Regions from separate parts of the Homo sapiens genome. Here region 1 is reported to be linked to region 2. Evidence: microRNA targets listed by miRTarBase, many of them from high-throughput screens and not tested one by one. Region 2 holds a microRNA gene; the other region holds the end of a gene's coding sequence.

The links. The annotated mature microRNA hsa-miR-4738-5p reads ACCAGCGCGUUUUCAGUUUCAU and lies in region 2 at 2,022-2,043, opposite strand. An mRNA with a match to its seed (bases 2 to 7 or 8) in the 3' UTR can be bound and repressed. Matches are read on the target gene's strand: a 7mer-m8 pairs with bases 2 to 8, a 7mer-A1 pairs with bases 2 to 7 and ends in A, and an 8mer does both.
Region 1: miRTarBase lists MRGPRF as a target of hsa-miR-4738-5p. The part of its 3' UTR that is shown has no 7-base or 8-base seed match.

Annotation. Positions count from the first base shown.
Region 1 is chr11:69,001,640-69,006,019 of GRCh38, reverse strand. MRGPRF (MAS related GPR family member F) reads left to right here. Exons shown (of 3, transcript NM_145015.5): 3 at 1-1,622. The coding sequence ends at 742. Among named protein-coding and RNA genes, the nearest start is that of MRGPRF-AS1, 8.5 kb to the left of the region's middle. RefSeq lists enhancers at 1,648-2,149, 3,110-3,610.
Region 2 is chr17:75,782,546-75,786,925 of GRCh38, forward strand. It overlaps MIR4738 (microRNA 4738), which reads right to left and starts at 2,062; the gene lies at 1,976-2,062. It overlaps UNK (unk zinc finger), which reads left to right and starts at 2,261. Exons shown (of 16, transcript NM_001080419.3): 1 at 2,261-2,439. The coding sequence starts at 2,336. RefSeq lists enhancers at 613-792, 2,355-2,933, 2,523-2,922, 2,934-3,511 and a silencer at 2,323-2,462.

The DNA of each region.
Region 1 (4,380 bases), not on the chromosome of region 2:
GGTGTTCTCCATCCTGAACACGGGGGGCTTCCTGGGCACGTTTGCCGACTACATCCGCAGCGTGTGCCGGGTCCTGGGGCTCTGCATGTTCCTTACCGGCGTGAGCCTCCTGCCGGCCGTCAGCGCCGAGCGCTGCGCCTCGGTCATCTTCCCCGCCTGGTACTGGCGCCGGCGGCCCAAGCGCCTGTCGGCCGTGGTGTGCGCCCTGCTGTGGGTCCTGTCCCTCCTGGTCACCTGCCTGCACAACTACTTCTGCGTGTTCCTGGGCCGCGGGGCCCCCGGCGCGGCCTGCAGGCACATGGACATCTTCCTGGGCATCCTCCTGTTCCTGCTCTGCTGCCCGCTCATGGTGCTGCCCTGCCTGGCCCTCATCCTGCACGTGGAGTGCCGGGCCCGACGGCGCCAGCGCTCTGCCAAGCTCAACCACGTCATCCTGGCCATGGTCTCCGTCTTCCTGGTGTCCTCCATCTACTTAGGGATCGACTGGTTCCTCTTCTGGGTCTTCCAGATCCCGGCCCCCTTCCCCGAGTACGTCACTGACCTGTGCATCTGCATCAACAGCAGCGCCAAGCCCATCGTCTACTTCCTGGCCGGGAGGGACAAGTCGCAGCGGCTGTGGGAGCCGCTCAGGGTGGTCTTCCAGCGGGCCCTGCGGGACGGCGCTGAGCTGGGGGAGGCCGGGGGCAGCACGCCCAACACAGTCACCATGGAGATGCAGTGTCCCCCGGGGAACGCCTCCTGAGACTCCAGCGCCTGGAGGAGGCAGGGGCAGGAAGCGGCCTCCAAGACCCTTCGCCTTGGGACAGGAATGGGCACCTGCTTCTGAGTCCATACAGGAGAAGAAAGATCTGTTTCCTCTCCTCGGGCCTCCTTCTCCCTGGGCTGGGGACTCCAGGGGTGGCTGGGAGACTGGGCAGCCACCAGCAAACAGACCCTGTGGCCCCTGCCCGGCTCCCCCACCCATTCTGCTCCCCTAGAGACCTCTTGTACAGAAGTTGCCCCCAGGTGGTGGGGCCCCTCCTTGCCCTAGGCTGGTTGGTAAAAGAGAGGAGGTCAACACCCAGCCTAGCCACCTCTGCCTCTTGGGTCAGCCCTCCTTGACTGTGTCCCAGCCAGCACCAGGCCAGCAGCCTCATCCCTGCCATTCAGGGCTGTTCCAGAGATTCGATCCTCTTAAGGCATTATCAGTGAGCAAATGTGAAGGAAATGGTGTCTGGAAGAAAGTTCTGGTTCACATGCCTTGTAGCTAAGTCTTTCTGCAAACAACCTCCCTTCCCCCCGTCGAGTCATTTGGTGACTTTGATGGGGGGATTTCTGGTTATGTCAAGGCTCTGGAGACAGGAAGGGCCTTTGGCCGCCTTGGGTAGTTGACCTGCCTTTTCTGACTCCGGGACGAGCCAGTCCTAGGCTGCCTCCGGGAGCACTTGAGGTATCCCGCAGGCCATGAGGACCCACTGGGCAGCTCCTGGACAGCCTCTTGGCTCCAGCCCCCACCCGAAAGTGGACACTGGCTCCGCCCTGGCCACCTGGGGACTGGCACTGTGGTGCACAGTGGCCCAATGTGGCCAACGGAAGTTTTATAAAAGACAAAATGTATATCAATAAACATTTTATAACTTGCAGCCAGGAAGGCTTCATGCCCACAGTCCTACCCTGGGTCTCTGTTTCCGACAGTGAGGACGCCCAAGGGCACAGAGTCCCGGGACGGGTGGCACCCCCCGCCAGCTCTCCCGCACACTTTGCTCTTTGCCTCTGCTCTCAGGCCTCCTCCTGGGGCTGGGTCTGCACACACCCGTGTTCCCGCTCCTGTGGCTTGTCCACTCCCTGCCAGAGGGAGCCGTGGTCAGCCAGGCTGTCCTGTGCCGGCGTATCCCAGTGCCCCTTCTCAGCTCGGAGGCCCCCACGGCCTCTGGGAGCCACAGCTCTCACCTCCTCCATGCCAGGCTCTGGGCCGGCCACCATGGTCCTGCCTGTGTCCACCGGAGGCTCCGTGGAGTGGATTGCTGCCTCTCCTCCTGTTGCCCCCGTTCAGGATGCCCCTCTCTGTCTTGAGATCCCTGAGCCAGCCTCCCAGTGCCCAGACATCTCTCTACAACCCAGCGATAGGCTGGGAGCCCTCCCAAGATGACAGCCCAGCCAGCGCCACGCTAGAAGGGTTCCTGCCTGGCCCTTTTGCCTCTGGTCAGCCCCCAGAAGGGCCCCATCCTGGGTTCCTGGTGTGCAACCTAGGACCCTGGCTCCTTTGAGACAAGCCTTAAGGCAAGCCTGCTCACCCCATGGTCCCATGGAGAGAGATCATGGCAGAGGTGTTGGTGCCCCCAGTCAGGAAACGTGGCTGACAGAGTTGGGCCCCTCGTCTGCAGAGCAGAGCCAGGAGCAGGCAGGCGGGCAGCACTCCGAGCTCCAGGTGGGAATGAGTAGAGGCGTGGGCAGTACCACCAGGTTCACGCACCCAGCCACCTGGAACGTGGCCTTCTAACTGCAGGCCCTGGAGCCTGCTCAGCCTGCCCCTGGTGAAGTGGTCCAGCCCTCAGTGGGCTGACCCCCCAGTTCTGTGTCCCTGATGATCCACTGCCCGGCCAACCTGACCTCCACTGCCCTCCTGCCCCTGCTCCTCAGCCCACTGCTCCTCCATGCTCCCCTTTCTAACAATCCTGGTCAGGTCCTCTCAGCAAGACCACCGCTCTAGGAAAAGAGGGGATCTCATGTGGCCCAGATGTCGTAGTTCCAGGACCTCTAGGTGATGAAGGTTGCATGTCCCCACCCGCTCCCTCCCAGTGCCCAGAACGAGCTCTGCCATCCTCCAAGTCCCACCCTCCCCAGCGCTGGTCAGAGGATCCCAGAAGAGCAGAGCTGGAGACCACCATGTCCAACAGGTCATTTCCAGCGACTCAGAGAAGCCAGGTGGGGCCTTGAGCAGACACACCAGGAGGCAGGGCTAGGACCTCGTCCAGTGGCGAAAGCTCCCACCAGCACGGGCATCCTAGCTACACAAGTGGGCAGAAGCACGTCCCTCTCCTGAAGGCAGCTGGGTGGGGGGTCCATCTGGGGTCCTGGCTCCTCCTCAGGGCCCAGAGCATCCCAGTTCCTGGGAATTCATCTCTTCCTTAGGAGTCCCCACCCCAGGACTCCAGCCCTGAGTCCTCGTGGGGAGCTGCTGACCTAGAAGGAAGGGGCCTCCCTGCCTGGATGCTGCTGCAACAGCTCAGAGCCAGGGCCGGTGAGGGGGTGGACAGCCTCACGCAGTAGCAGGGCCTGGAGGTCAGGAATAGGCTGGGTCCGACTCTAGGAGGAGGCATCTGCCCTGATGGATCCTAAGGCGGGAGGGGCAGAGGTGAACCCCAGGAACTAGGCCTCCCCCAACCCGTGGCCCTTCTCAGGTGCAGGTGTTTGCAGTCTTGCTAGGGAACAAGCTTTCTTCCCCTCCATCCCCCCGCAAAGCCCCAGGATTCCCACACCTCCCTGGACCACCTCGCTCTCTGTGCTAATGGAGGGAGACTGCACAGATGATGAGATGAGCGGGAACTGCCCGCTCTCCTCCACTTTCCTCCTCCTTCCTTTGGTATTTAATTATTAAAGTGGGCTTGGGAGGAGCTGAGGGCTGCGGGGGAGATTTCCATCCCACAGCTCTGGGAAAAGGATCCACAGCAGGTCACAGAATGGAGAGTGGGGCATGGGACCAGAGCATCTGGGCTGCCCTGGTTGTTACAAAGCCGACTTAGTAACAACCATGTGGTATGTGGGAAGGGTGGGGTGAAGGGGCAGGGGTGGGGCATCAGGCAGGGCAGAACTCTCCACTTTTCCGTGCTGTCTGCCACCCACTATTTCTATAAAAATAAGCTGCTCTTTTAGATTATGCAAGGGATAAGCAAGGCCAAATTTGGAAAGTCAAGAGCAAGCCTCAGGGAGGCAGAGGGCTGCCACCTATAAGCCATGGGACCTCAGTCTTGCTGTGCCTCACTTTCCTTGGATAAGTCAGCTACAGCACCGACCTCCAGGAGTTGGTGCAGTGGCCTGGGGTGGCAGCCGGTGTGCCTGATTGCCCTGGTCGGGCGTTCAGGGCAGGGAGCAGAATGGCCACTGCAGAAGGGATGTGCCTGTGAGTGGTTTGTCCCCAGCACCAATCTGCTGTTTGCGGACATACTATGGGCAGTGGGTGCTGGCCAAGAGCTGCACGTAGGTTTTCTGTTGACTGTCCATGCAGGGCTACATGGCCCATACTGTCAGCCCCAGCTGTGGAAGTGGGGGCTCATGAATGGAGTTTCTCATCCAAGGTCAGTCGCGCTGGTGGACGGCCCTGGCTGGAGGCCTACATCACCATCCAGGGACTCCCCACAGTGGCCCTCCTGTTGCCCTGGAGGCTCAGGTCTCTGACCTTCC
Region 2 (4,380 bases):
GTGTTTCACGATTTTTCTAGGTTATACAGAATCCTGTCATTTCCATGCCTTTGTGTGGATGGACAGTCATTTTCTTTCCAGCTTTGCTGATTATTAGAAACTAAAGCCACCCGGAGAAAAAAGGTATGGATATACATTTATCCATTTAAGTATGATTCGTGGAAACAGGAGTCCGGGCGCAGTGGCTCACGCCTGTAATCCCAGCTCTTGGGAGGCTGAGGAGGGTGGATCGTGAGGTCAGGAGTTCGAGACCAGCCTGACCAACATGGTGAAACCACGTCTCTACTAAAACTACAAAAATCAGGTGGGCGTGGTGGCACACACCTGTAATCCCAGCTACTCAGGAGGCTGAGGCAGGAGAATTGCTTGAACCTGGGAGGCAGAGGTTGCAGTGAGCCGAAATCACACCACTGCACTCCAGCCTGGGCAACAGAGCAAGACTCTGCCTCAAAAAAAAAAAAAAAAAAAAAAAAAAAAGGCTGTCTCTCTTACTTCGTAGTCATGCAGGTATGTTTCACTTTTTCCAGATTGGTACAACGGAGGAAAAGCAACACAGGAAATGAGGAAGAATAAAAAATGTTTATACAATGAAAAAAAGCAGAAGAAAACAAAACAAACAAAACCCAACAGTGAATGTGATGTAGTCTTGTAGGCTACTGTCCTAGTTCCTCTTGTTACCAACTTGCTGAGTAACTTTGTGCAAGTTACTTAGCTTCTCTGGGTTTCGGTTTCCTCTTTTGTAAATTAAGCAGTTTGGATGATATCATCTCCCAACTCCACCAGTACACACTTATTCTGAAGCTCATGATATACATCTATTATTTAAAATCCAGTGCTGTGAACTCTATTTCTTCAGTCAGATCACACTTGAGTATTGTGAGGCTAACATAAACCAAGTAACTTGCGTTTAATCATAGGATTAAAGCAATATACTACAACTTTTATTTGTCCTTTTGTAATTTTTCATTTTCAAACGCCCCTAGTGGCTAAACGATTTAGCCTGTTTAGGAAAAACCAGTTTCTCAACTCTGTGATGTGGCTTCTGATGTGAGGGAACTTGGAGCTAAATAAAATAAGTATGTGTCACTCAAACATTAACGATTTTCCATTAGCCCCACCACCCTTCATCCCTAAGGTTATTTGGAATGTGTTTCTTTAATGAGATAATCATTTGTTAATATAATCCCATCTAAGAAAATATAAATCAAAACCAGTGGATTTGAAATAGATTCAATATGAAAAACCAAATTAAATGACAACGGTTAAAATATCTACGGAGAACATTCTAAAACTCACAGAAACAAATGCCTAGGTCTGGGGCATCTGGCTTATTTTATAAAGTGAAGAACTTTGCTTGACTGGTGGGAAGCAGAGAGGGGAAAGATAATGTCCCAAGTAAAAAGGCTGACGTCCAGACAAGAAAACTAGAGTGGATAAATACGGGCACGCCCTACTCAAACCCAGGCCTTTCCTCTGGACCCTGTGATGCTTCTCAACACTGGCAACTTGTCAGTGTACCTCAGAGACTATTCTAGGCGGAGATTAAATTCGTCCTTGGCCCTTAATGTACTGGAAACAAGTTGGTCAGGCCAGGTGTCAGGCTGAGAAAGCACACAAGTCGTGGAGTTCCAGGTGTCGAGTTTGGCAAAGGTAAATGAAGCGCCTCGGCAAAGGCGCGGGAACTGTAGCGTGCGGTGTACCTCCTCCTTAGCAAAGCTTTCTCAATGCCTCTTAGGTTAGACCCGCCGCAGGGATGAAGGGGTTGCTGGCGGATTGCAGGTGCCTGCAGCACAGGGCCCAGAACTAAGAACCGACAACACAGATTCTTAAGCCCTGCTTGGAGCACTGCTCTGAGCTGGCATTAGAACCGAACCTAGCTGTACTAAGTATAAAGGCAAAGTAGTTATGACACTGTTGGCAGTGAAATTATACTTGGAACTCTTTCGCAGAAATCGCTAGGGCCTCCCTAGCTCTGGGCCCCTTCTCCTCCAGGCGCTCCAGTTTCATGGAAAGGCTTCCCTATGAAACTGAAAACGCGCTGGTAAGAAGGAGAAATGCGACCGGACTGCAATTCCCAGAAGCCGTCGCAGGCCCTCAGCATCCGGGACACTAGCAGCAAGGATCCCTGGGTATTGTGGTCCTGTGCTTTGCCAGCAACCCTCTGCCGACGGTAAAATTCCAGCCGGACATAGAACCACAACTCCCAGCAACCCCTGCTGCCGTGTGGGGGGTCTTCACGTTCTCGTGGCGCGGCGCAGGCGCACTGGGTCCTCGGCGCGGACCGCGCAGACTGAATAATAAAAGGGGAGCGGCGAAGAGGCAGGAAGACAAGACCATGTCGAAGGGCCCCGGGCCCGGCGGCTCCGCAGCTTCCTCGGCGCCCCCGGCCGCTACCGCTCAGGTGCTGCAGGCACAGCCCGAGAAACCGCAGCACTACACGTACGTAGAGCCCCCCCCCCCCCGCCGCGCGCGCACGCCTGACGTCAGCGGCCAGCGTGAGTCACGCGCGCAGGGAGAGCGCGAGGCGGCCTCTTCCTCCCCCCCTTCCTCCTCCGGCCCGGCCCAGACCGGTTCCAACCTGCTGGGGCCGGTCCCAACTGCCTCCAACTGCCACCAACCTCTGGTCGGGCTGTGGGGCGGGAAACTCGGTCCCGGCCGCCGAGTGGGGAAGGCGGGAGCTCGGGATGCAGAGTGCACTCTCCCTAGGCCAGGCCTTCGAGGCCTAACTGTTCCTCAGACCATAAAACCACAGTAGTAGGCTCCTTTGGGGCAGTGAGAAGTCCAAGACACAACCAAGAGGAGTTCCGTGGGGTCCAGCCCCAGAACCCACCTATGAATGATGATTAACGTGAAGTCCTGTCAGGAGATTCCGTGCAGTTTGCGCAGGAAGCCTTTTGTGTCCCTAAGGCTCGTAGGTTGTCCACGAGGGCCACACTTGCTTGAATTCACAGTCGACGTAGATAAACATGCAAAGATGGAAACGTGTCCGTGCGTGCCCATGACCGTTTCCCTCGCGGGCTGTGCGGAGCCTGAGTCTGGGAGCCCGAAGGTGATGGGTTCCAAGTATGTCTGCAGGCTCAGCAGAAATGTAGCATTAGAGGGAGCCCCAAATACTGACACTACAGGAGTCCAGCAGGATGGGAAAACCTCTTCCTGGAAGTCTTGCATCTGTGTGCTTTTAGGTCGCTGTCTTCATTTCCTTCAAGCCACGTTAAGCATTCCCTAGAGTTAGGTGATGTGGGAGAAAGATGAATAAGGGGCGGTTTCTCCTGTTAAGCAAAATGTTGCTTTCCATTTTCCCTGATGCTCTGTGAATGCCTCTCATCCCCATGGGCTCCTGAGTGATGTGCATGTTTAAAAGGATCCCCAGCTGCGAGAGGTTTTGGAACCTGGGGGGTTGAACAGCTCTTAAGTTGTTCAGTGAACGAAGAACAGAATCATCTGTTGGAGTAGAAAGAACTCAAACCAGTCAGGAGGAACTCTTGTTATAGAAGACCTTGGGAAACTGTTCTGGGGTTGGGGAACATTGGTTATAGGAAGTGTATGGTTTCTTTGTGGGATTCTTTGTTGTTGGCTGAAATCATTTAAGCTTCTTGACTACAGTCTGACTCACGTTAACCATTCCTTTTCTGATATGGACATTGCTTTCCTGGTCCTTTCTTACTGGAGATCTTTCGCAGTCTTTCCATTGATTTTGGTGAGATGTTCTTAGCTCAAAGACTACTGATGAGTTGAATGGTGTAGTCTTGATTTTCGAATCTGGAAACTTCACGTAATTGGAACTTCTTTATAATCTCTGGTTGCTCAGATCACTGTTTTTAGCAAAATAAACACATTTTGAGTCACGAGAGTCTTGGCTTCAGCAACTTGTGTTTCTGTGTTGTGTTGTCATTGAGCATACTATGGAATCTGTAATAGAAAGGCTTTCTTATTTTGGAATTGACAGGTGAAACAAGTGAACAGCTGATTAAATGTCAGTATCTGAGTCTTTGTCCTCTTGATGCTCATTTGTTTAAAACCTGTCTTTCCTGCCGGGCGTGGTAGCTCTCACGCCTGTAATCACAGCATTTTGGGAGGCCGAGGCGGATCGCATGAGGTCAGGAGTGAAGAGACCAGCCTGCCCAATATGGCAAAACCCCGTCTCTACTAAAAATACAAAAAATTAGCTGGGTGTGCTGGCGGGCGCCTGTAATCCCAGCTACTCAGGAGGCTGAGGCAGGAGAATCGCTTGAACCCGGGAGGCGGAGGTGGCAGTGAGCCGAGATCGTGCCACTGCACTCCAGCCTGAGCGACAAGAGCAAAACTCCGTCTCAAAAAACAGAAACAAAAACAAAAAAAAAGCCTGCCTTTCCATTCCTTGTGGGTAAGTATAGAGTAATG